3 separate regions of the Homo sapiens genome follow, and regions 2 and 3 are each reported to be linked to region 1. Evidence: microRNA targets listed by miRTarBase, many of them from high-throughput screens and not tested one by one. Region 1 holds a microRNA gene; each other region holds the end of a gene's coding sequence.

What was found. Region 1 holds the annotated microRNA hsa-miR-492 (AGGACCUGCGGGACAAGAUUCUU, at 5,996-6,018, shown strand). A microRNA usually pairs through its seed, bases 2 to 8, with sites in the 3' UTR of a target mRNA and lowers its output. Matches are read on the target gene's strand: a 7mer-m8 pairs with bases 2 to 8, a 7mer-A1 pairs with bases 2 to 7 and ends in A, and an 8mer does both.
Region 2: miRTarBase lists PYCR3 as a target of hsa-miR-492. Seed matches in the 3' UTR shown: 7mer-A1 at 2,333-2,339.
Region 3: miRTarBase lists BAAT as a target of hsa-miR-492. The part of its 3' UTR that is shown has no 7-base or 8-base seed match.

Annotation. Positions count from the first base shown.
Region 1 is chr12:94,828,432-94,839,343 of GRCh38, forward strand. It overlaps MIR492 (microRNA 492), which reads left to right and starts at 5,967; the gene lies at 5,967-6,082. It also overlaps the pseudogene KRT19P2. RefSeq lists enhancers at 2,568-2,617, 2,768-2,977, 2,988-3,197, 5,368-5,869, 5,870-6,369.
Region 2 is chr8:143,601,559-143,607,646 of GRCh38, forward strand. It overlaps PYCR3 (pyrroline-5-carboxylate reductase 3), which reads right to left. Exons shown (of 6, transcript NM_023078.6): 3 at 5,395-5,574; 4 at 4,909-5,121; 5 at 4,504-4,596; 6 at 1,652-4,324. The coding sequence ends at 4,142. It overlaps TIGD5 (tigger transposable element derived 5), which reads left to right. Exons shown (of 1, transcript NM_032862.5): 1 at 1-1,666. Among named protein-coding and RNA genes, the nearest start is that of PYCR3, 5.0 kb to the right of the region's middle.
Region 3 is chr9:101,355,254-101,366,165 of GRCh38, reverse strand. It overlaps BAAT (bile acid-CoA:amino acid N-acyltransferase), which reads left to right. Exons shown (of 4, transcript NM_001701.4): 4 at 3,151-5,749. The coding sequence ends at 3,738. It also overlaps the pseudogene TRMT112P4 and the pseudogene LOC100421197. Among named protein-coding and RNA genes, the nearest start is that of BAAT, 24 kb to the left of the region's middle.

The DNA of each region.
Region 1 (10,912 bases):
TCTAGAACTAGAAATACCATTTGACCCAGCCATCGCATTACTGGGTATATACGCAAAGGATTATAAATCATGCTGCTATAAATATGCAAAGGATTATAAATCATGCTGCTATAAAGACACATGCACACATATGTTTACTGTGGCACTATTCACAATAGCAAAGACCTGGAACCAACCCAAATGTCCATCAATGATAGACTGGATTAAGAAAATGTGGCACATATACACCATGGAATACTATGCAGCCATAAAAAAGGATGAGTTCATGCCCTTTGTAGTGACATGGATGAAGCTTGAAACCATCATTCTGAGCAAACAATCGCAAGGACAGAAAACCAAACACCGCATGTTCTCACTCACAGGTGGGAACTGAACAATGAGAACACTTGGACACAGGGTGGGGAACATCACACACCAGGGCCTGTCATGGGGTGGCGGGAGGAGGGAGGGATAGCATTAAGAGATAGACCTAATGTAAATGATGAGTTAATGGGTGCAGCACACCAACATGGCACCTGTATACATATGTAACAAACCTGCACATTGTCCACATGTACCCTAGAACTTAAAGTATAATAAAATATATATATAAACAGCTAATAAGCACACGCAAAAATGCTCAATATCATTAGTCATTACAGAAATGCAAATTAAAACCACAATGAGATACTACTACACACCCACCAGAATGGCTATAGTCAAAACGACAGACAATATCAAGTGTAGAATGGGATGTGGAGCAACTGGAACCCCCTCATACCCCAGAGATGGGAAGGTTAAATGGTACAGTCACCGTGGAAGGCACTGTAACAGCTTTTCAAAAGGTTAAATATACATCTACCATATGTCCCAGGAATTGCAATTCTAGGTGTCTACCCAAGAGAAATAAAAACATTTGTCTACACAAAAACTTGCATACAAATGATTATAGCAGCATTATTCATAATAGCCAAAATGTAGAAACAACTCAAACGAACATCAACTGGTGAATGAGTTAACAAGATGTTGTATATCCATATAATGAGATACTCAGCAACAAAAAGGAACTACCAATGTACATTACAACAGTGAAAAGGGTCAAAAACATGCTAAGGGAGAAAAAGCCCGTCACAAAACCCTATATTAAATCATTCCACTTATATGAAATTTCTAGCAAAAGCAAATGTATGAAGATAGAAAGTGGATTAGTGGTTGCCCAGGACTGGGGGTGGGAGAAGAGACTAACTGCAAGTGGGCACAAGGCCACCTTGTGCTGTAATGGGCATGTTCTATAAACATGGATTACGGAGATGATTGCACAACTCTACAAATTCACTAAAAATCAATGTATTTACAATGGATGGACTTTAGATATGTAAATTATACCTCAGTAAAGTTATGGGCTCAGTTCAGAGGGCAGATCTTCCAGTCATATTCATGATGAGTCACAGGCAATCCAAAGATAGAAACAAAATGGAGAGAAAGAATACATTTCCTTCTTCTTCAATTTTATTTATCAAAAGCACTTTCTTCAGGTATCTCAAAATTTAAAGCTATAAGCCAGGCACGATGGTGCACACCTGTAGTCCCAGCTACTCTGGAGGCCAAGGCAGGAAAAACGCTTGAGCCCAGGAGTTTGAGATCAGCCTGGGAAACATAGCAAGACTCTATCTCTCTTTATTATTTTTTTAATTAAAGCTAAAATACCCAGATCTCTTTTTTTAATTATTATTAATTTCTGAGACAGAGTGTTGCTCTGTCATCCAGGCTGGAATGCAGTGGCACAATCTCAGCTCACTGCAACCTCCGACTCCTGGGTTCAAGCAATTCTCCTGCCTCAGCCTCCGAAGTAGTTGGGATTACAGGCGCCTGCCACCATGCCCAGCTAATTTTTGCATTTTTAGTAGAGACAGGGTTTCATCATGTTGGCCAGGCTGGTCTCAAACTCCTGACCTGAAACGATCCACTCACCTTGGCCCAAAGTGCTGCAATTACAGGCATGAGCCACCATGCCCGGCCCCACATCTGTTAAAATATGATTTTGCAGGCAGTTTGCCTGGAGGTTAAGGGTTGGAACTGTGGACTCAATCTGTGTGTAAAACCCAGCACTCCTACTTACTAGCTGACTTTAGCATGTTACTTAGACTGAGTTTCAGTTTCTTGTTCTGATACAAAAAATTAATACATACTACAGAGTTGTTTTAAACTAGCACACTATCTATTAACAGCACATGGTAAATACTCAACAAATGCCGATGTTATTTTTTTATTATCAACACATCATCATTACCATCACTATGACTGTAGTTTCCTTGGGAGACTTGAAAACTTGACTGATATGTGTATGTTCCTAATGTACATTTAGTGCTTCATCACTGCTATATTCAATTTAATTGACTGCCCAAACATAACCATGTTCCCTTATAACCCTCATTCCTTATCTTAGGGACCTTATACTTTGAAATAAAATCCCTGGATCATTTCACTAACAGAACAAAAGCTGTGCTATTCCCTGGCTAAAGCAAGATATTTTCCAATTCAACCATAGGAAAAAAACATTTTTAAAAGGTGCAGTTTTTGTTTGTTTCTAGGATAGGAGAACTGGACAAAGAAAAAATGTCAGCATCTCCTCAGAGAAGCCTGGCAAACAGGGGAAATAACACTAAACAAAGAAAGCCATGTGCAGAGGACCTGGCACAGGAACACAATTGCCAGGCCTTGCACCCGAGAATCACCAACACCTGCAGAGTAAAGCAACGGGCCACGTACAGTGCTGACTGCTTCCTGGGTGACAGCTGAAACCCAGCCAAGTTCAAAAACCCCTCATTGTGGGTGTGTGTTTTTGCTTTGTAACATCTATATGAAAAGGGAAGGGAAACTGCATGGGGTAAACTTTCTATTTTGTAAGACAAGCGTCTTCTTGTTCTCTTTTTCTTTTTCTGGTCAGTGAGTGGAAGGACAGAACCCTGGAAAAATACCTGTGCACCAAGCAAGACAACCCCATCACTGATGTCAGGAAAAGCAGAGCAGTCACCTCTGGCTTGCCCAGCCCACCTCACTCGCCCACCAGCACACACTGCGACTAAAGAACCCCACTTTAGCTGACTGGAGCATTCTTCCAGCCACACACCTCAAAGATCATCTGGGAAGAGATACCACAACACGGCAGGGGGCCGGGTGCCTGTGCCAGGGAGGGACACATGCTCTTCACTCCCCACACTTGCTGGTGAGCCACAGAAGCCCTGTGACCTCAGCACACTCAAGGGAAATATGTCATGGGGCTTACCCTTCATGAGGACCGCTCTAACTTAGCATCCAAGAAAACCTCACAGCCCCTGTGGGGACTTCTCCTGGGCACCACCTAGCTCCTGCCTTAGTAAAGTGTGGAGAAAACCAACTTCCTCACAGAAATGTCTTTTAGAGCCAAATGTAAGTGTCCCTGAAATCAAGTAGACAATGATATTCCTATCATTCTGGGCCTGTCCTTGAAAGTTGTCTCTGTTGTTTTCTTTCCACTAGAAAGTCATAGACCCTGAGACCCAAAAAGGCCCACAGGGATCTAGAGAGGTGAAATAACTTACTAAAGGCCACAGAGGATGGAAGTGGCCAGGCCAAGACTAACACCCAGCTTTATCCACAAAATCTGGAAAATGCTATCAGGCTATCTTCGACCCAGAAAAGAAGCGCTCACAAGAAGAATATCAAGGGAGGCTAGTCCAGACTCTGCAGCTAGTGTCAAAGTTCAAATCCAGTTCTGTCCCTTACTAGGGCACGTAACCTGGGCAATTTCCTTAACTTCTGTTTTCTCTTCCATTAATAAGAGGATAATAACAGCATCAACATTACAGAGCACTCCAAGCATGAATGTATCAATACCGAGAGTTTCTATATGACTGATCATCCTCCTCCTCCTCATCATCATCCTAAAACAGACAGGGGAATGAGAGTAAAGAAGGGATGATAGGAAAAAAAGGTAGAAAGTGAGTGTATGGTCACTAAATAAGTAGAGCATAATTTAACTTCAAAAAATTCAAAGACATGTCTAGGGTCATATCCACAGGGGTTAGTGAGAACATAAAAGCAAAACGTATTATAAACCATTAGGTACAGTATGGCTCCAACTATGTTAAATATTCATACCCACATGTATATACATACTTCCAGAAGAAAGTGAAATAAAATGCATGAAACATTAATTCTCTGGGCACTGGGATTAAGGTTGATCTTTATTGTCTTCTTTATTACTTTTATTTCCCAAATTTTCCACAACAGACATATATTGCTTTAGAAATCAAAATAAATGTGGGTTTTAAAGGCTGTTTTTATTTTTTTATTTTTATTTTTATTTTTTTGAGACAGGGTTTCACTGTTACCCAGGCTGGAATGCAGTTGTGCGATCACAGCTCACCGCAATCTCCACCTCCCAGGCTCAGAAGCAATCCTCCTGCTCCAGAGCCCCCACCACCCATAGCTGGAACCACAAGTGCATGCCACCACACCCAGCTAATTTTTGTATTTTTGAAGAGATGAGGTTTCATCATGTTGCCCAGGCGGGCCTTAAACCCCTGGACCCAGAGCCATCTGCCTGCCTCCGTCTCCCGAAGTGCTCACAGGCAGAGCCGCAGCGCCCAGCCCAAGGCTGTTTTTTAAAAGAAGAAACTTGATACCAGGCCAGGCCTCAAATGGCAAAAGGGCTATTAGGTAGAATCCCAAGAGGCAGGGGCTGTGTTTACTCAGACAGCCAAGGGGGAAGTGCCTGTGTCTGGGAAGAGAACAAGACTTAGGGGGAAGGGGGAAGCTTAACCACGAAGCTTATGCCTGAGAGCATCAGGCCAGGGAAGGACTCTGTAAAATAGGAATAAATTCCAAAAGAAAATAAAACAGAAGTGACGACATCAGCAGTCCCTAGTTAAAAGAAGAAGAAGAAGAAAGAGAATCCTGGAGCAAGCCTCTGCGCAGATAATTTTTTTTCCCTGGCTGGAACAGAAGATCAGTCACCAAAACTAAAAAGCAAAAGATCCAAGTGGCTGAAAAAAGGAATTATGGGCTCCCACTGGGGACAAGACTTGCCTGGAAGCCCATCTGAGGGCTTGCTGCCCTATCCTTCACATCTGAGATTATCCCCTGATCCCAGCCAAGACCAGGGATTTCCTGCTTTTTGGCATCCAGATGCGAGAAATAGATCTGCTGACTCTGAGATCACTGACTGACACTAGCCAGGGCCCAGAGAGAACGCCGCCGTGGGGTCTAAGATCGAGTTCACCTGGCATCTTTCTCGGCACGTATCTTCCTGGCTTGTCCTCAGTCTCCACTCCTCTCAGTTTGAGTTCCCACCTCACCTCTTTTGCAGAGATTCCTTGTAGCTCATATGAAGGAGTGGACAGAAGACACAGAACAGATAGCAGAGAGAAGTACTGGGGGCCTCCCAGCTCTTGTTCAGGGCCCCACTTTCCTCTGACAAGCATGTTAAGGTTTATCCAGATTATCCCTCCAGTTCCCCTATTTCACAGATGAGGGAAATGAGACAGAAAAAGGGGGACTGTATGTCTGTGCCCATCAAAGTCAGATGAAATGATACACTGTCTTAAGACCATCTGATTCGGGACCTTGCCTGAGGTCACAAATCTTTGTAGTGACAGAGCCAGGACAAGCACATAACTATCCTAATGGCTGCTCCTTCCTTCAGCACTGTGGCTGCCTACGAGCTGGACTGCAGTCTCTACTGCTCACTAGAAAAGTTCCAGTCCCCCAGCAGGCACAGGGGCTCCAGCAGCCGCGGCGTGTCCTTGTCCTCCTTCGGGGGGCTACAGCGGCATCCTGTCTGGGTCCAACGGATTGCTTGCGGGCAACGAGAAGCTCACCATGCATAACCTCAACAACTGCCTGGCCTCCTACCTGGACAAGGTGCACGCCCTGGAGGCAGCCAACAGCAAGCTGGAGGTGAAGCTCCGTGACTAGTACCAGAAGCAGGGGCACAGGCCCTCCCACAACTACAGCCACTACTACAGGACCATCGAGGACCTGCGGGACAAGATTCTTGGTGCCACCATTGAGAACGCCAGGATTGTCCTGCAGATCAACAATGCTCAACTGGCTGCAGATGACTTCTGAACCAAGTTTGGTTTGAGTGTTTGGGTGCTGGATGAGGTGACCCTGGCCAGGACTGATCTGGAGGCACAGATCAAAGGCCTGAAGGAAGAGCTGGCCTACCTGAAGAAGAAGCATGAGGAGGAAATCAATGCCCTGAGGGGCCAAGTGGGAGACCAGGTCCATGTGAGGGTGGATTCAGCTCGGACCTGCCAAGATCCTGAGTGACAGGCAAAGCCAATATGAGATCATGGCCAAGCAGAACTGGAAGGATGCTGAAGCCTGGTTCACCAGCTGGACTGAGGAACTGAACCAGGAGGTCACTGGCCACATAGAGCAGCTCCAGATAAGCAGGTCTGAGGTCACTGACCTGCAGTGCACCCTCCAGGGTCTTGAGATTGAGCTGCACTCGCAGCTCAGCGTGAAAGCTCCCTTAGAAGGCACACTGGCAGAAACAGAGGCATGCTTTGGAGCCCAGCTGGTGCAGATCCAGGCACTGATCAGCAGTATTGAAGCCCAGCTGGGCGATGTGCGAGCTGATGGTGAGTGGCAGAATCAGGAGTACCAGCGGCTCCTGGAGCAGGAGATCGCCACCTATCGCAGCCTGCTTGAGGGCCAGGAAGATCATTACAACAACCTGTCCACCTCCAAGGTCCTCTGAGGCTGCAGGCTCTGGGGCCTCTGCTCTCCTCAAAGCACGTCTCCTGGGTAGGAGGATGGGAAGGAAGAGACCCTTACCCCTGGTTCTTCCCCTGACCTGCCAGCAAAATTTTATGGCTCAAGGGAAGAAAAAAAAAAAAAAACAAGAGCAAAGAAAAGTTCCAGTCTAATCCCCAGGCTCCTCTTGGGCAAATGTCAACACATAAAATGATCCAGAAGGCCAAGTCAAATTACGGTGTAATGGACAGGGGTGCCTCTTCACATTGCCTAAGGGACAACTATAACAGAAAACATCTCAGTCAAAAAGGTGACCCTGGGCCAGGCGCGGTGGCTCACGCTTGTAATCCCAGCACTTTGGGAGGCCGAGGCGGGCGGATCACGAGGTCAGGAGATCGAGACCATCCCGGCTAAAACGGTGAAACCCCGTCTCTACTAAAAATACAAAAAATTAGCCGGGCGTAGTGGCGGGCGCCTGTAGTCCCAGCTACTTGGGAGGCTGAGGCAGGAGAATGGCATGAACCCAGGAGGCGGAGCTTGCAGTGAGCCGAGATCCCGCCACTGCACTCCAGCCTGGGCGACAGAGCGAGACTCCGTCTCAAAAAAAAAAAAAAAAAAGGTGACCCTGCAATGTGGATTGCCAGGACCCACAATGAGCCAGAGGGGTTGGCACCTTTTCAACACGGGCCTGCATTCCTGCAGGTCCAGATCCCAGAGTGTACTGTATCCAACGTGCCTGTGGCTAGCGTGTGTCTACAGACTCTGGAACCACACTCCTTGGCTTCCAACCCTGGCTCCAGCACATACTCTGTGACTTTTGGCCAGTACATTAACCTTTCTGTGTCTCCATTTCTCCTTCTGGAAGGTAAGCATTAAGTATCTCCTATCTTTAAAAGTTCCTAAGAAGTCTACATCCTAGGCCACCCTATATGTGCACACCCAGCAGCCCTTTCTGTCCCCTTTGAGCCCAATCTGAGGGAGGACAGGTCCCTCTCTCAGCCTCAGAAAGTGAATGATGATGGGATTCAACCTTTTCTTTGGTTTTCTCCTTCTCTTTGGCCAGTGACAAGTCAAAGGCAAGAATAACTCGGTTCTCACTAAACAGGGAGGTCAGCAGGGAAACTTTCCTTTCCCAATAAAAAGACATAGGTTTGGCCAGGTGCGGTGGTTCACACCTGTAATCCCAGCACTTTGGGAGGCTGAGGCAGGCGGATCACCTGAGGTCAGGAGTTCAAGACCAGACTGGCCAACGTGGTGAAACCCCGTCTCTACTAAAAATACAAAAATTAGCCGGGCATGGTGGCACATGCTTGTAATCCCAGCTACTCGGGAGGCTGAGGCAGAAGAATCGCTTGAACCTGGGAGGCAGAGGTTTCAGTGAGCCGAGATCATGCTACTGCACTCTAGCCTGGGCGACAAGAGCAAAACTCCATCTCAAAAAAAAAAAAAAAAAAAAAGACATAGGTTTATGCAAAGCGTATTAGGCCATTCGTGCACTGCTATAAAGGAATACCTGACACTGGGTAATTTATAAAGAGAAGAGTTTTAACTGGCTCACTGTTCTGCAGGCTGTACATGCATGGCACCAGCATCCTGAGCACAGCTTCCAGGGAGGCCTCAGGGAGCTTTTACTCATGGCAGAAGGCAAAATGGGAACAGGCATGTCACATGGCATGGCGAATGAAGGAGCAAGAGTGAGTTGGGGCAGAGGTGCCACAAACTTAAACAACCAGATCTCCTGAGAACTCACTCACTATCACTCACTATATCAAGGACAGCACCAAGACATGAGGGATCTGCCCCATGACCCAAACACCTCCCACCAGGCCCCACCTCCAACACTGGGGATTAGATTTCAACATGAGATTTGGGCGGGGACAAATATCCAAACCATATCACACAAAAGAAGCCTTTTGACCCTTCCACTGCCTTTAGTGCTGCTATAGCAGCCATCTGCCGCCATGGGGAAAGAGCCAGGAAGGCCAAGAGGATCTCAGCCCTGAGCACTAACACTGTCCTGGTCTCTGTGCCCAGGCCAGCCTCCACTTATTCCAAGGATGACTGTGAGGAATGTGGACCCCTGCTTGTTTACAGTACTGTTGGATAACTCTTCTTTTGCTTGTGGCCAAATGCCATCCTAATAGGTCAACTGTATAAGTTTATTCTCATTAAAAAAAAATAAAATTTAAAATCATGTTCTCCAAAAAGTTACTGAGTAAAAGTGATGTCGCAATATCAGTATGACTCATGGCATTGATTTTTGTTCGTTTGTTTTTTGTATTTTTCTGAGACAGAGTCTCACTCTGTCTCCCAGGCTGGAGTCAGTGGCGCAATCTCGGCTCACTGCAACCTCCTCCTCCCGGGTTCAAGCGATTCTCCTACCTCAACCTCCTGAATAGCTGGGACTACAGGTGTGCGCCACCATGTCTGGCTAATTTTTTTGTATTTTTAGTAGAAATGGGGTTTCACCATATTGACCAGGCTGGTCTCGAACTCCTGACCTCGTGATCCGCCCGCCTCGGCCTCCCAAAGTGCTGGGATTACAGGCATGAGCCACCATGCCTGGCCGGCATTGTTTTATACACACACACAGATACAGAAATATAGGGATGTGTGTGTATATACATTATATATACACACACACACACACACACACTATATATGGGTGTACATGTCACATATATTTCCTAGCTTTTTCCACTCAGGCGGCCTTGAAGCTGTGATGTCCCTACAGCAACAAGCACACTTAGTATCTGGATCTTGGTTTCTAAATACCATCCTCCAGATGACCTCCAAGAGACCAGTGTTCCTTGAAGAAATGGCTGGCTCAAGAACTGCAGCAAGGAAAATACAAGATGAACCTGGACATCTTAGAATGCCAGAAAGCAAAGGAGGTGCTTTTTTTAAAAAGGAAAGGGTGAGAAAAGGAAAAAAGAAGAAAGATGGGGCATGTCAAATGGACGTATAAGCCAAACTGAAGGAGTTCCCAATAGCCAAAGCTGGAACAAATTAGAGGGAAAAAAGGGGGGATAGTAGTATAAGATCATAGAATAAAACAAATATCTGTGAGCCTATACTGAAATAAATAAGTGACTAAGTAAATATAGCAAAAGGGACAGATCTTCCTTACAAAAGAATTCCAATTAATAATTATAGAAAGAATTAGGAAAATAGAAAATCACCTGTATTTCACTGGAGCAGAAATGTTTGCCCTAAAAAAAATTATGGCCTTCAGTCTTCCTGGGAATGATCAGCTGTTGCACTTTCGGTGACAGCAGGATTATGGACATTAATACAGAACTTTACAGTTTATAAATTTTTTTTTAAGAAAGAAAAGAAGAAATCATGATTAAACACCATAGTAATAACTGCTTTAACAAGATCCACTGATGAAGATAAAATTAATGTGTGAAACTTTATGGAGAAACATTATCTGCACAACCTTAAAATATCTCCTAGCTGAATACTAATACAAATATTAATTACTGTGGTGGTTTTAAAATATGTCCACAGACTCTTTGATACTCCTCCATGAGGTGGAACTTAATCCCCCCATGCCCTGAGTATGGGCTGGACTTGGTGATTCCTCTCTACTTAATCAATGATGGAAAGGGAAAGACAGTAACCTTACAGTAGTGAAACCTAGCAGACATGAGACATCACCAGTACCAAGCCATCTTGACATCATGTACTCCTTCAAAGGACGCAGTGAGAACAGCGTATCACCTGAATCGTATTTGTCCCCAAAGTCCATAACCTCAGTCTAATCCTGAGAAGACACTAGACAAACCCAAATGGAAGAACATTCTATAAAATGCCTGAACACGACTCTTCAAAAGTGTCAAGGTCATACGTCTCAAGCCTTTTAGTGTTGTTATAAAGCAACATCTGCATGCTTGGCTCATGGTTCTGCAGGCTATTCAAGAAGCATGGTGCCAGCATCTGCTTCTGGTGAGGGCCTCAGGCTGCTCCCACTCATGGCAGAAGGTGAAAGGGAACTGGTGTGTGCAGAGATCACATGGTGAGAGGAGAAGCAAGAGAGAGGAGAGGGGCCGGGCACGGTGGCTCATGTTTGTAATCCCAACAATTTGGGAGGCCAAAAGGGGAGAATCTCTTGAGCCCAGGTGTTCGAGACCAGCCTGGACAACATAGTGAAACGCCATCTCTACAAAAAATAGAAAAATTAACT
Region 2 (6,088 bases), not on the chromosome of region 1:
CTTGTCTGTAGTCTGGGCGGCCCGTGGCGCTGCCCTTCAGCCCAACTACTCATTGCCGCTGCGTCTTTGGCGAGGCTTTCATTTCCAACCTTTCTTCCCATCTCAGCCCTTTTGTTGGCCCGGGTCCCAGGAGGCTGGTGTCGGTGAGGGCAGGCCCGCTCCTCTCATCGGGGTGGCTGTGGCCTGTCCCCCAGTCCCTCAATGGCCACTTTCTATAAACAAGGCAGCACTAATTTTTGCTATAAGATAAAAGAGGCCAGGCACGTTGGCTCACACCTGTCATCCCAGCACTTTGGGAGGCTGAGGCGGGTGGATCACCTGAGATTGGGAGTTCGAGACCAGCCTGGCCAACATGGTGAAAACCCCGTCTCTACTAAAAATACAAAAATTAGCTGGGCGTGGTGGCAGGTGCCTGTAACCCTAGCTACTCAGGAGGCTGAGGCACGAGAAATGCTTGAAGCCAGAAGGCAGAGATTGCAGTGAGCCAAGATCACAACACCGCGCTCCAGTCTGCGCGACAGAGCGAGACTCTGTCTCAAAAAAAAAAAAAAAAAAGTGCAGGTGCACGCTGGTGGGGACATTAGGAGCCTGTCAAGAGTGGGTCTGCCTGCTGGCACTTACTAGACGGGAAATACCCCCTAAAGAGGGCTTAAAAAGCATCTTCTCCCTAGCACGGGGCATGCTGGCACAGGGTGCTGTGTGACAGAGGCTTGGCCGCTGGGCCCCGCTGCTGAGAAGGCTGCTCTGCCCATGCCTGGCCCTGTGGGCAGTGCCAGCCATGGATCCCTGAGACCCTGGGCTGGAACCTGGGGCCCCGTCCCAGCCCTACCTGCAGCTCACTAACCCTCTCTGGGTTCTGCTCAGTGTCTGAAGTGATGGAAAGACCCCAGGGTTGGTGGCTGTAGCGGCCCCCAGGGGTGGCAGAACCCTTTGGGAGGCCAAGTGTTCTTTCCCAAAGCTGCGCGGGTGCCATCGCCTGCCAGGCCCTGGCTGTGGTGACAGACGTGGGCTGGGGTGAGGCTGCATCTGCTTCCTCTAACAGCCGTGGCTGCCTGCGGGCTCTGGCCTCCGCTCTGGCAGATTCTGCACATTCCCTGCAGGCGCAGGGGTGGGTGGGGGTGCCTGTGGCCTCGGAGGTACAGCCAGCTGTCCTCAGCTCAGATGGCCCCCAAGAGCCCCCAGCTCCTGTTCACTGCTCTTCCAGTTAGTGACCCCCGTGTCAGCATCATTGTCAGAGTTCCTGGGCTTGTGGGGGCTGGAGAAGGGAAGGCGCTGAGGAGGGAAAGATGAGTGCAGGTTTTGTTGAAACCACCCGACCCGCGTTTTCAGGGGGACGAGGCCACTGCCTTGGCCCAAGGACCTGCAGGCTTGGGGGACCCCCTCGATGTCCACTGGGCTGCGGATGAAACATCACACTGTGGTAGGAAAGGAAGGGGAGCACCCCCAGACGGGGGGGTCCTGCAGAGACCCCAACCCCTTACCTACCTAGTTGAGACACCCATGGGGAGCAGCCCCAACAGCATGTCGGAGTCCCTAGGCTTGTGGGGTCATGCTCTGTTGAGGGCCCTTCCTCTAACTGGCGAGCTTGTTTACAGCTGAGCTCGCCTGGTCAGATGGGCCCAGTGGCTTTATCTAATAAAGGCTGGACATGTCCACTTCATGAGCATCCCTGTTTTGAAGTCTTATTTTTAAACTCTTGATCCAACGCTTGGATCAGGAATACCCCCTAGATTAACAGTTGGGGCATAGGGCATAAAAGTGGAACATTGATCAAAGATACCGTAATCATATCCATCGTTTTCTGTCTTGAAGAACAGTTTTCACCTGGAAGTAGAAGGCACAGGGGAGGCCTGGCTCACCACAACGCTCCCTGCCGTGCCGAGAACTGAGCCCGTGTCTTTGTCACAGGCCCTCACCAGCTGGGCCAGGAGTGGCTGGCTTGGGATCTCCACCTCCCGAGCTGAGCTCACCTAGTGCCCAGGGCTTGTCAGAGGTCCCAGGGGGAGACAGGTGTTGGTGCAAAGTCAATGATTTCTCCTTGCAGATGGGCTTGGTGTGAATGCAGGTGGCCGTCAGAAGGGCTGTCCACCTTCCTTCAGGGGGCCGCCTGCACCAGACCCCAGGCTCCCAGGCCTGCCCAGGCTTGGCATACAGTCCCCTGGGGTGACAGCGTGCAGGGGAAACTGCAATTCCATGCCCTACAAAGCCCCCAGGTGATGTAGAGGCCTGTAGCAGGCATGGGGAGACCTCTGCTGTCCACAGTGCCAGCACCCCCTTCGGCTGACACCTGTGCTTGACCAAGGTTCCAGGCCTCAACTTATGGGGCAGGCATTGGACCTTCTTTTTTTTTTTTTCCAAGACAGAGTCTTGCTGTCACCCAGGCTGGAGTGCAGTGGCATGATCTTGGCTCTCTGCAATCTCCGCCTCCTGGATTCAAGCAATTCTCCTGCCTCAGCCTCCCAAGTAGCTGGGATTACAGGCACGCACCACCACATCCAGCTAATTTTGTATTTTTAGTAGAGATGGGGTTTCTCCATGTTGGTCAGGTTGGTCTCAAACTCCTGACTTTGTGATCTGCCCGCCTCGGCCTCCCAAAGTGCTGGAATTACAGATGTGAGCCACTGGGCCCAGCCCAGAACTTGGTTTTATCCACCTCTGGTGAAACATGAGCTCACTTGGTGCTCTCTGGCCTCTTTATTCCCATCTCCTTAGGCTGACCCTGACAAGTGCCAGGGCCAGGCTTGGACCAAGCAGTCAACTGAGTCAGCCTGCCCTGGGAACCAGGCAGGGGAGGGAGCTTACGGACGGGCTAGGCTCAGGAGAGTAAGAGAGAGCAGATGAAGGGCAGAAGTCCGTGGCCGCAGAGGCAGCTGAGCATGAGGGATGGAGCGTGCTGCTGTCCTGCAGGTGCCGTTAGCCCTGTTTTGCACTGGTGGATTGATCTGCTCAGGCGCACAGGGAGATGGCACAGCAGGACCCGCCGCCCAGCCTCGCTGAGGGCATGCTCCCGCCTCACCTCCAGAGGCTGTTGGGCGGAAGCCGAGAGCTGCAGCAGTTGGGGCCAGCGTGGGACTGGAGGCCCAGGTGAATCTTGTGGGGCAGGGGACGGAGCTGAGGCTGTCCGGCCCGGGCCCTCCCCACCCAAAGGCCCTAGAACCCTAGCCTTCAATCCTGGGGGTTTGCTTCTCCCCTGAGTCCTGGCTTTCCTGACCTGCCGTCCGTTAGGGACAGGTGGAGGGGCCAAGTCTTGCCATCAGAGGCCAGTGTGGTGGTGCCAGAGCTACGGGGTATTCCAGGACCCCTGACCTAGGCACGGGGCAGGAGGGCCCAGAGCCACCTGGCCACTTGTCAGGAGCTTAGGATTGGGAGGAAAGAGGGAGCCTGTATCCAGACTAAAGCCAGGGGTCTGCATGTGTCCTGGCTGGCCAGGGCCACCCTCCCAGACCTCAAGCCACCCCACCTACCACTGCCCACCTGGTGCCACCCCAGCACTGCCGCAGACCTGGCCCAGCAGCTCCTGCTCCTTAGCAGGGGATGAGCACGCCCACCACAGCCACCCTCTTCTCCAGGCTGCAGGGCAGGCTCCAGCTCCCCATGGGGGCCCCATCAGGCCAGGGCCCCTGGCTTTACTGCAGGGGAGAGGGTCTCTTGTGCAGACCCCATATGGCTCGTGCCCCCTAGAGCTGAGATGAGGCAGCCGGCCTGGCTGTAGCTGCACGGAGCCACCTGGAAAGCCAAAGGCAAGCTCCAGCTCCAGACCAGGCATTGGGCCAGCCGTGCCTGTTACCGTAAGTTCTGTTCATGGCCTCAACCAACTGCCCAACCATGCGGGCAAATGACCAAGACGCCATCTCTTGGGCCCCTCAGAACCAATGTTGCAGCAAGGTGGGCTCACTGCAGCAAGGGGCAGAGCCACCACCACGGTGCCTTCTGCTCACTGGGGAGGGAGGAGTGTCCCCACTGGTCGGGGCTCCCCCGCCTGCTGGAACCTCCCAAGTCCTGCCCCCTGCATTTCCCTGTGCAAGGGGAGAAGGAGCAGTAGGAGACCCTCATGCAGGAGGGAGGGAGCCGCAGTCCTCAGGGGAAGGGACACAGGGAGAGGCAGGGGCACAGAGGCAGGAAAGGATGGCCAGAGCCCAGCCTACTTTCTGCTGAGCTCCTTGGCCCGGCAGGTGGCAGCCTCCACGGCGCTCATGGTGGCTGCTCGCAGCCCGCCCTGCTCCAGGGCGTGGAGTCCATAGATGGTGGTGCCACCCGGGGTGCACACGTCTGAGCGCAGCTGGGCTGGGTGTTGGCCCTCGTGCAGCAGCATCTTGGCCGTCCCCTGAGGAGAGCGTTAGGGCCTGGTGACGGGGGGAGGTGGTGCGGTCCCCACTGTGCGGCCTGCCCTCGTTGCATCCCCCAACCTTGGCCCCAGCTTCTCGAGCCTGCTGTTTCCCTGCGCACTGGAAGAGGTACAGGCCTGGGCCTTCCCGATGTTCCCCAGGGGCCACCCTCACTCACCAGCAGGGTCTGGGCAGCGATGCGGTGGGCCAGGCTGCTGGGCATGCCCATCTTGACGGCTCCTTCAGCCAGGGCCTCGGAGAATGCACACACCTGTAGCCGCGGCATGGTGGTTGGGGGGGATAGGTGTCAAAGCCTGGGGGCTCAGGACCTTCAGGAACAATGCCCAGAGCAGTAGCCGTGGGTGGCCAGAACCAAGGCCTGAGCCCAACGGTCTGCAAAGGGGCTGGCCTCAAAGATCCCCAAGGCAGTGAAGTCCCGGGGACAAGCAGAGCTCCCAGTGGGCCTGGGGAGCAACCACGCAGGCCTCAAGGTTGGACTCTGAGGGCAGAGGCTGTCAGAGGGACTGGGGTGGGCCCCCTCTTTGCCGAGGGTGGGGCCGGGGATGGACGAGGCAATACTCACGAAGGCCACGCCACTGCCACTGAGGCCAGTGTGGATGTCGACGTAGGCTTCAGGCACCTCCTCACACCGCCCACAGGCCTCCAGCAGATGCTGCAGGAGCTTGGTCTCGCTGCTCCCCACGTGGCGGCCCCGCGCCATCACTATGGCCCCTTCCTGGACCACACAGGGCAGGTTGGGCAAGACCCGCAGCACCCGTGTGTTTGGGGGCAGCAGCTGGCCAGAGAGAGGTCAGAATCAGGGAGTCTGTAGGACTGGGCCCTGCTGGGCAGGCCCCAGCAGGGGCCTCAGGAAAGGTCCACGTCAGCTCGCGGTGGGCTCCAGCGTCTGCCTCCCAGGTACAGCACCAGGAGGGAACCCTAAATCCAGCCACTTGATCCAGGTGGGCCACACGGCCACCTCTCAGGCTCTCTGGGGGGCTGCCTGCCGCCCAAGCCTGGCCAGCAGAGCCTATACTGGGACCAAGGCCTTAGCCCAAGGGACACTCACCTCCTCCAGGGTGCTCAGAGACACCCCAGCAGCCACGGACACCAAGATGTGTTCAGTGGTGACCACAGGAGCCACCTCTGCCAGGACAGCTGGCAGCACATGAGGCTTGGTGGCAAAGATGACGAGCAGGCAGCTCTGCAGCACCTCCTGGTTGGAGTGCGTGGTCCGGCAACCCAGAGCCTGCGCCAGGGACACCAGGACCAAGCCTCAGGGGCCATGTAAGCGGCGCACCCTCTCCATCACAGCCCTTCCTGCTGGATGCCACACGTTCCCATGGTCCCAGGGCCTCTCCCATTGCAAGTGTCTAGACCACCCCGACTTCTCCAGTGCCCAAGACTCCCCCAGACTAGCCCTACTCCTCACAGGCCATCCTGATGTCAGCGCCTCCCCAAGCCCTGAGCCCTCCATCCCCAGTGAATGTCTGTGACCACCACCCAGCATGCAAACACACCCATGCACATGCACGCACTCACGAGCATGCATTCATATACACACACGCAGACACATGCACTCACGAGCATACATACACATGTACACATGAATGCACTCATGAGCACAAACACATGCACACACACCCACTCGAGCATGCACTCATGTGTACACGCACGCACTCATACACGCACACACGCACTCATATACACATCTGCACAGGCACACATGCACAAGCACATACGTGCACTCACGACCACACAGG
Region 3 (10,912 bases), not on the chromosome of region 1:
TCTATCTTATATATTAAGATATAGGATTGGGAGGGGTGGGGGAGAAAGGTAGGTCAAAGGGTACAAAGTTTCTGTTAGACAAGAAGACTAAGATCTGGTGATCTGTTGCACAGCATGGTGACTATAGTTAATAATAATGTATTGTATATTTCCAAATTGCTAAAAGATTAGATTTTAAATGTTCTTACCCCAAAGAAATGGTAAGTTTGTGAGGTAATGGATATGTTAATCAGCCTGATTTGTTCATTCCACCATGTATATATGCACTGAAATATCACATTATGCACCATAAATATGTATAATTATTATTTGTCAATTAAAAATAAAAATTAGGCCAGGCACAGTGGCTCATGCCTGTAATCCCAGCACTTTGGGAGGCCGAGGTGGGCAGATCACCTGAGATCAGGGGTTCAAGACCAGCCTGGCCAACATGGAGAAAACCCAACTCTACTAAAAATACAAAAATTAGCCAGGTGTGGTGGCGGGCGCCTGTAGTTCCAGCTCGGGAGGCTGAGGCCAGAGAATTGCTTGAACCTGAGAGGCGGAGGTTGCAGTGAGCCGAGATTGAGCCACCACACTCCAGCCTGGGTGACAGAATGAGACTCAGTCTCAAAAAATAAAAATAAAGTAAAAAATAATAAATTAAAATTAAAATTAAAAAAATACAGAATTTCAGAGCTTGAAAGGAACTTTTAATTGATTCAAGCCACCCCTGTTAAATATACAGGGTAGGAAATAGAGAGTATATATGACTCATTCCATTTGTTTAGTTTTTTTTTTCCCTCTTACCCTAAGAATTTCTCACATTTTCATCAGCTTGGCATGAGTTGTATATTGATTCATGTGTTTCTAAGTAGTAGGGAAAATATCCCAAACATTGGTTTATAAAATGCCTTTAAAATATAGGAGATCAATTAAAATAAATACAGGAAGTCAACAAAGGTTTTAGAAAAGTGATGCTTCTCTCTAGGACTCTGTCCTTGCCAGGAGCCAGTGCTCAAGGAGAATCGGAGCTTTATTTTGTGACACAACAATTTTCTTTAACTCCTCCTTAGAATTCCCAACCAAATTGGTAACTGGGAGCAATACACTCAATACTCAAAAATAACTCATGAACATGTAGTTTCCTTTTCATTTTTACTGCTGTTACCTTAGTTCAGGACAGTATAATTTTCTGCTTTTATCAGTGCATTAATCTGTGGCTTTTCTGCCTCCATTTATGCAAGTCAGAGTTGTAAACACAACTATTTTACTCGCTTGCTTAAGAGTCTCCCTATTTATTATAGGATAAAGGCCAGGCTTCCTAGCATGTTAGACAAAGCTTCCTATGATCTGACTTCTGCATACTTATTCAGTCTTATCTTATGCCCATCCTTAAAATTTGTCCTAATTTTCCTCCTTAGTTAGGAAAAAAACTGAAGATGCTTAATATATCTTTCAAAGCTATGCACCATAAAGTTGGTGTTTTCTGTTTCAGACTTATTATGTTATTTCCCACCTTATACTCTAAATTAAAATAATGAAGAATGACTTGTGGTTCCTCTAAATGCCTTGCTCTTCATTGCCTCTCAGTTTTTGCATGAGTTTCTCCTATGGTGAATACATTAGGAATGTTTTGGCTACATTTCTCAGAAAAGTGGCTGATGGTGGCTTAAACATCAGCATAAGGTATCTTATTCTCTTACATAACAGGTTTGGTGATAGGTGGTTCAAACTTTGGCTTAGAAACTCAGTGTAGTTTTCAATCAAGGAGATTAGATTGACATTTCTGCAATTTTCTAGCCTTACTCTGAAGGTCACAAAATGACTCTGGCAGTTTCAGGAATTAAGTCAACAGGCCAGCATCCTAGTCTGAAAAGAATGATCATAAACATAGGCTTTCTCTTCATGATTCTGTGTCAGTTTGCACGGGGGGCAAAAAAAGTCCTTAGGTAGAATATGTTGGCCTTGGAAGAGAGGCTGAGAAAGGGAAATAGATTAGGATCCATCAGAATTTATCCCTTGGGGCTGGATATATTGCTATGCCACACAAAATCAAGGTCATATTAGCTTTGAAATTGTGGAGAATGGCTCCTGTGTAGGCAACTAACAGAGTCTGCTATACTCAGCATAGAATACCATTCCTTCTTGTTGACTTTCTTGTAATTTTTATTTCTTGAGACAGGGTCTCACTCTATTGCCCAGGCTGGGGTACAATAGCACAATCATAGCTCACTAAAGCCTTGAACTCCTGGGCTCAAGTGATCCTTCCACCTCAACCTGAGTAGCTGGGCCTACAGGCACACACCGCCATATTCAACTAATTTTTTAGTTTTGTAGAGATAGGGTCTCACTATGTTAACCAGGCTTGGCTTTCATTTTTTAATACGAAGACTCATTTGTTTTGTAGCCCATTTCCTCTGAGAGCCTTTCTTTGATCCTGCCTTTATTCCCTGCTAATCTGGGTTGGCAGTCTAGCCTACATACATTCTCATATCATAGAATTTATGATGCTCCAATCATCTGGTGTGTTTTTTTTTTTCCTCCTGTGTCTTCATCTGGCAGTGAGTTCCTTAATGACAAGAGATTGTTCCTTTTCTCTCTGTGACTCCCAGTGCTTGCCGTAGGATAGATAATTTAAGGATGCTTATTTGATGACTGACAATGAGGGAGGAAGCTGAGCCAAGCCTCCTTTATGACATTTTTCTCCACAATGAGAAAACTTTTGGAAAAAACAAAGCAAATCTAGAATCCTCTGTTCAACTCTATCCTACTGATCTCACTTTCTTTCTCAGTCTCTTCCTACAAGGTGCCCTTTCCTCTGAAGGGAGGAAAGTGTACCAATCATCTATACCCTGACCCACATTATTCACAATAGTCATGTGCCATTTCTTACTTTCCCTGCGACATTTGCATTTCTTTAGGGCATTTTAAACTCAGAACCTAACACAATACTGAATCCGTAATATATAGTCGGTAAAGCTTGACATATTTTTGGAGTATTTCTTTTGAATACATATTATATATTCCAGAACTCTATAGCTAGGGATGTGGGTAGGATTAATACTTGCTTTGTTCTCATTAGCCAGTGAAGTTCTTTGGTTGTTTGAGATTGTGGAGTTTTCCTAAATGAAGGCTAGAATAATTTCTCATTTCTATTATTTTTTTCAGGTCTTTGGCTCAGGCGTTGGGGTAGTCTCTGTATGTCAAGGAGTACAGATTGGACTATCTATGGCTATTTACCTAAAGCAAGTCACAGCCACGGTACTTATTAATGGGACCAACTTTCCTTTTGGCATTCCACAGGTATATCATGGTCAGATCCATCAGCCCCTTCCCCATTCTGCACAATTAATATCCACCAATGCCTTGGGGTTACTAGAGCTCTATCGCACTTTTGAGACAACTCAAGTTGGGGCCAGTCAATATTTGTTTCCTATTGAAGAGGCCCAGGGGCAATTCCTCTTCATTGTAGGAGAAGGTGATAAGACTATCAACAGCAAAGCACACGCTGAACAAGCCATAGGACAGCTGAAGAGACATGGGAAGAACAACTGGACCCTGCTATCTTACCCTGGGGCAGGCCACCTGATAGAACCTCCCTATTCTCCTCTGTGCTGTGCCTCAACGACCCACGATTTGAGGTTACACTGGGGAGGAGAGGTGATCCCACACGCAGCTGCACAGGAACATGCTTGGAAGGAGATCCAGAGATTTCTCAGGAAGCACCTCATTCCAGATGTGACCAGTCAACTCTAAGAAGACTAGATATTCCTAGAAAATAAAGAAGCAAATCTCTTTACCGGGACCTTCTCTCAATTTTCATGGCGGAATGTCTCCCCCAGCTGCCACACACACATTTTGTATTAATTTTAATGATTAAAAAGAGCATAGGGTAAAAACCTGATATTTCACTTATACTGCATAACAAGCTAACCAAACTGGACATGGTGAATAAATCATAAAACAAATCATTTTACTTATTATTTACATGACTTTTCTTTCCATCAGGTCTTCTAAATAGGACTGAGGTATAGTACACTGGCAAAAATAAGAAAAGGCAAACAAGAATAGCACCAAAGTAACAGATATAAAACCAAATACCATGTCAGAAAACACTATATAGTAAGAATTTATCAGATTAGAGCAGCAGGAGAAAATTAATACTAAATTATAATCATTTTAGTGATATTTTTCAACTTCACCACAGTAACTTTGCAACATCATTTTTCATTTGTGGGGTAGTAAAATTCATGTCAAAAAGGAAAGAAGGAATGGAGGAGGTCAGTTAGTTCATTGCAATAAATTACCTCTTCAGTTCTTAAAAACATGCCCATTGGCACATAACTGAGACATAATAACTAAGACTGGAAGAGCCTTGGTTTAAGTTATGAAGCAAATTAAAATGGAAAATACAAGAAAATAGAACCAATTAGGTTGAAAATGCCCCTTACTGAAAATCTGTATTAAAAATAAAATTAATAAAAGTAAAAAATAAAAATAGAAACACAACTCTACTAGTACAGGCTAGCCTGGGGAGTTTGATAAACTGAGTGATTGGGTCAACTATCACTGTACTTCCATAATGAATTTCTTCAGTCATGTTAGAGTAGCACATGAATGTGAGCTCTATAAGGACAGGTACTATATTTCCGTAAGACCCAATAGTTACTGTACATCCCATAAATAAAAAATACTTTAGTTTGCTAACCAACTGAATATATGAGGACTGCATGTAATTCAACCACATGGTTGTTTGCTGTACAGTCCTTTGCAAATATTAAAAAATTTTTTTTGCTATAAGGCTTTGATCATATAGTCCTCATAGCAACATAACTACCATCTAGCATGTACCACATTTTGCAAGACTTTAAGTTCAACATTCCAAACTGCCAATTTGTATTATGTCCAAATGCAGTATCCTTGAGGAATATAGTGGGTCAGTTAAATATCTAGAGACATACAAACATCTGCTAATTCATCTCATTGAGATGGATCATTCTGATCTCCATCATCCACCCACTTTTCATCAGCTTCTCCTACTTCATTCTCCTCATAGTCTTTATCATGAGGGATTCTGTATCCTGTCTCTCATCTACACTTGCTGGCCTTCCTGGTTGTGATTTATTGGAACAGTCTACACAAAAACCATAGGGTCAAGATCCATGTCTTACTCCAACACTGGCTGCTAACATGATCTTACATACCATACATTTGCATTTTTATCCTTCTTGTGCACCAAGAAATGTTTTCTTACATGTTTTCTCCAAGTGTAAAAAGTCACAGCTAAATGATCTCACTCCTGTATGAATAAGCAAGTGCTTTTTTAGTGTTTGTTTGCATTTGGCTGCATAGCTACAATGATGGCATTTTAACTTATTCATGATTAGAGATGATGATATGGTTTGGATATTTGTTGTGCCCAAATTTCATGCTGAAATGTAATCCCTAGTGTTGGAGGTGAGGCCTGGTGGGAGTTGTTTGGGTCATGGGGGTGGACCCTCATGGCTTGGTACTGTCCTCATGAGAGTATGATAGTGAGTGAGTTCTCAAGAGATATGACTGTTTAAAAGTGTGTGGCACCTCCTCCCCATCCTCACACTCTTTCTTGCCTCCTCTCTCGCCATGTGAGATGCCTCCTCGCTGTTCACCTGCTGCCATGATTGTAAACTTCCTGAGGCCTCCCCAGAAGCCAAGTAGATGCAAGCATTATGCTTCTGTAAAGCCTGCAGGACCATGATCCAATTAAATCTCTTTTCTTTATAAATTACCCAGTCTCAGGTATTTCTTTATAGCAACACAAGAACAACCTAACATGAATGATTCACCATTTTCCCAAGTTTCTTGTTTTGGCCAAGATTCTGGCAATAATCCATATTTGAAATCAAAGTATCTGGTATCAATTCATACTTGAAGTCACTTGAAGTGCCAGGCATCAAACCATACTTATTATAAAATCATGTGAAGTTCTAACATCACCTCCATCTTGATTAGACCCAGCTTCAGCCAATACATTCTTATCATCATCTGGCCCTGAAAGTAGAGCAACATCCAAATCTGGTTCTTCCAAGATTTCTACTCAAATATGAGTAGCGTATTTTCCTCTGAAAAGGCAATAGATGGCTGCATCATTGAGTAATCTTCCAAATTTGTTTCATTATTAGATGATGTATTATAAATAAATCTCCTTGTAGTTTGGTTTTTCCTCCGTGTTTCCCAGTTTCTTGAATTCCCTGGGAGCCCATATTATTCCAAGCAAACACTTGTTTGACCTTTGGATTTGTTTTCAGCCATTTCAGGAGATGCATTCTGGACCCAACTATTGTCACTCACTTGGTAGTTTTCTGTTTGGCCCTTGTTGACATTACAGCCATCATTTTCAGTTTTTATATTACTTGCCAAATTGGTAAGATTTAATGTTGCCCAAAAATTGGCAATTTTTTGATCCAATGATGAAGACAGACCATCTCTATTAACTGAGTTTTGTTTGTTTGTTTGTTTGTTTGTTTAGACAGTCTTGCTCTGTCACCCAGGCTGGAGGGTAGTGGCACAATTTTGGCTCACTGCAACTTTTGTTTCCCAGGTTCAAGCAATTCTCATGCCTCCCGAGTAGCTGGGATTACAGGCGTGAGCCACCATCCTTGGCTAATTCTGTATTTTCAGTAGAGACAGGGTTTTGCCATGTATGCCAGGCAGATCTTGAACTCCTGGCCTCAAGTGATCCATGTACATTGGCCTCCCAAAGTGCTGGGATTACAGGCATGAGCCACCATGCCCGGCCTGGTTTTCTATTATTATAGTCCACAACTGCAGACCCATGGAACTTCTGATTTAATGCTTATATTTAATCTTTAATAAATTTAGGCATCTGTAATAAAATTTCAGCAAGTTTGAAATTTCACTTGTTTGAAGATAGGCCACTGTCATTATTTTGGCTTGTGAGTACAAGGTTACCAGAATACAAGAAGTCCACAAGGACTGAAAAATTTTGACTGCTGCAGTATCTAAGTGGGTAGTATTATTTCGGTTAGGGCTTTCTTAGTTTTTAACACTATATAAAGTCTTAAAGAAATGGCTGCCAGCAACCAGGATGTTCTTAGGAGCCTTACAGATTTTCTGCTTACTACAGTGCTGACACCACAAAGTTTACCTTTCTTTTTTGTTCATTTTGTTGTCACAGAAGTTGACAGCAGTAACAGTTCTCATTTGGTCTGCTAGTAAACTCACAGTACCCCTCCTCTGATGGTATTCCTGACTAAAAGCGTACGTCATCTGACTAGCTATATTTTTTTAAAAAATTTTGGCTGTTTTGACTACTGCCGTCCACGTAAGATATGACTTGACTTGCTCCTCCTTGCCTTCCGCCGTAATTGTGAAGCCTCCCCAGCCACTTTGAACTAGATGGGGTTTCGCCACGTTACCCAGGCTGGTCTCAAACTCCTGGGCTCAAGCAATCTGCCAGCTTCAGCCTCCCGAAGTGTTGGGATTACAGGTATGAGCCATCGTGGCTGGCCAATATTTGAACTGAGTGTGGAGTGGCACAGGAAGAGTGGGGAAGAACTGGAGTGAGCCACTGGCTTCGGGTGGGATGCTCAGGTTTTAGTGAGGAATGGGGTCCATCTGCAGACTCCTCTTCAGACTGCCAGTCATGCTCAGTGGTCAGATCCTCTCTTAACAGGGGTTCCTCACATAGCAGTCAAGTGGGAAACTGGAGATTTGCTTGGAAAATATCCCCATCTGTGTCCCTGCTCTGAGCAGGGTAAAGTTTCTGGTAAAACAGCACACAGGGAAAAGGATCAATTCTTTCTGTTGACCGGCCTAGAGTGGTCCTGCTATGAGTCAAGGGGAAAGGTGTAAGAGTATTTACCAAGATATCTTTCTGAGAGCCCTCTGATATTAAGGTCAACTGACTCTTCTCTAAATGGCCTTTATTTAACTATTTCTCTCAGCCTATAGGACTTGCCCAATGATATGGTTTGGTTCTGTGTCCCCACCCAAATCTGCAGAGGTGGGGCCCTCATGGAGAACCTCTGCTAGGGCAATGTGGAAGGGAAATGTGGGGTCAAAGCCCCCACACAGAGTCCCTACTGGGGCACTGGCTAGTGGAGCTGTGAGAAGAGGGCCACCGTCCTCCACATCCCAGAGTGGTAGATCCACTGACAGCCTGCACTGTAGGCCTGGAAAAGACTCAGGACACTCCACAACTGCCTGTGAAAGCAGCCATGAGGGAGGCTGTACCCTGCAAAGCTATAGCGGCAGTGCTGCCCAAGACCATGGGAACCCACCTCTTGCATCAGTGTGACCCAGACGTAAGACATGGAGTCAAAGGAGATCATTTTGGAACTTTAAGATTTGACTACCCTGCTGGATTTTGGACTTTCATGGGGCCTGTAGCACCTTTGTTTTGGCCAATTTCTCCCATTTGGAATAGCTATATTTACCCAATGCCTGTACCCCCATTGTATCTAGGAAATAACTAGCTTGCTTTTGATTTTACAGGTTTGTAGGCAGAAGGGACTTGCCTTGTCTCAGATGAGACTTTGGACTTGGACTTTTGGGTTAATGCTGAAATGAGTTGAGCCTTTGGGGGATTGTTGGGAAGGCATGATTGGTTTTGAAATGTGAAGATAAAAGATTTGGGAGGGACCAGGGGCAGAATGATATAGTTTGGCTCTGTGTACTCAACCAAATATCATCTTGTAGCTCCCATAATTCCCATGTGTGTGGGAGGGACCTGATGGGAGATGATTGAATTATGGAGGCAGGTCTTTCCCATGCTGTTCTCATGATAGTAAATAAGTCTCACGAGGTCTGACCGTATTATAAGGGGGAGTTTCCCTGCACAAGCTCTCTTAGCCTGCCGCCATCCATGTAAGATGTGACTTGCTCCCCTTGCCTTCCATCATGATTGTGAGGCCTCCCAGCCATGTAGAATTGTGAGTCCAATTAAACCTTTTTCTTTTGTTAAGAAAAAAAAGTTTTAGAGATAGGGTCTTACTATGTTGCCCAGTCTGGTCTCAAACTCCTGGCTTCAAGCAATCCTTCTGCCTCAGCCTCCCAAGTAACTGGGATTAGAGACATAAGTCACTGTGCCTGGATTTTCATTTTAAATATTTATAATATTGTATGTAGGTTTTCATTTTTTGCTCTTGCTGTAGGTCCCACAAATGTGAGGGATAGGCTTGTACATCACATATGCCCATTACTATGATCTTAATATTAATGCCCCCAAAATTTATATGTTTAAAAACCTAATCCCCAAGGTGATGACATTAAGAGGTGGGGCCTTTTTGGAAGTGATTAAGCCATATGGGCAAAGCCCTCATTGGGATCAGTGCCCTTATGAAAGAGGTTGAAGACAATCTGCTGAGCTTGCATGTGTGGGGGTGGGGCCCTGTGGCTTCCCCCTGCACCTCCAGGCCACTGAGGTCTGCATCTGCCCTCTGGAGTTCAACCCTCACTTAGTGGCACAGTATGATACCCTAGGAGTGACCGGTGCTCCTGGAGGCAGCTGATACATACCTTGCACCTGACTGGGGTGCCTAAAGGGCCAGTTGAGGGATATGAGGAGGATGAACAGTTTCTGAGGAAGATGTACCATGTGCTGCTGGAGGTGGATGTGTTGGAGGGCACCCTGCAGTGCCCAGAGTCTAGACGTGTGTTCTGCCTCAGTCGCAGGGTTCCCAATATGCTGCTGAATGATGAGGAAACTGAGAGTTGATTGTGCCAAGTGCCAGTTTTCCTTCTCATGATCGTGTGAATTTTTGTTGATGTATATCCTGTTTCCTAATTCTGCTACATGTATCCCCAACCCTTGGCCCAATGGCACACCAAACACACCATATTCTTGAGCTCGATAGTATATGTTTTTTCTCATTAAAGTTTCAAACAAAAAAAAAGTAAATAAAAAAATAAAAATAAAAAAGAGGTTGAAGGGAGGTGCCTTGCCGCCTTCACCATGTGAGGATGCAGAAACAAGATGCTATCTATGGAGCCGAGAGTAGCCCTTACCAGAGACCATATCTGCTAGTTCCTTGATCTTAGACCTCCCAGGCTCCAGAACTGTGAGAAATACATTTCTATCGTAAATTACCCCGTCTAAGGCATTTCATTATAGCAGCAGAGACCAACAAAGACAGAAATAGGCACAGAGAGATAGGGTGTGTTAATAACAAAACCTAAAAATGGGAAAGCAGCTTTGGAACTGCATAATAAATAAAGGATGGAAAGAGTTTACAGGTCCACTGCCATGAAAGGAGCCTTAGGGGCAACTCAGGTGAGGGTTCAGAAGAAGGTGAGGTTGAAGAAGCTGTAGAAATAGCCTCCATCTTCTTAGAGATTACCTAAGTGGTTGTGATCAAAATGTTGATAATACAGAAATACAGATGGTAAAGGCCATTCTGATGAAGTCTCAGACAAAAATGAAGGACACGTTATTGGCAACTGAGGACTAGATGATCTCTGTTACAAAGGGGCAAAAGAACTTGGCCAAATCATGTTCATGTTCTAGAAGAAATCTCTAAGCAAAATGTTGAGGATTTTGACTACTTATAATAAAATGTGGAAGCAGAACTTAAAGATTTGGAAAATTCTCAGCCTGGTCATATTGTATAGAGTGGAAAGCTGTGTTCAAGAGAGAACACCAAGGGTGTGGCTAAGTAACCGTTTGATAAGGAGATTAGTACGGTGAGGCAGAAATCAGGTGCTATTTATCAAGATAATGAAAGAATGACACCAAAGGCCTTTCAGTGTTTATTTGTGCTGTCCTTCCTATCATAGGCACAGACTGCCAAGGCTGGGGGCAACATATCTGTATCAAAAGAGGAAGCTTGGAAACCGGTAGGACCTTGACGCCAGGTGGCCTCAAATCTCCACTTCCTGCATTCTGCTGCAATGCTCCTCACCTGCCCCAGGTATGGTTCACGCAGGCCCA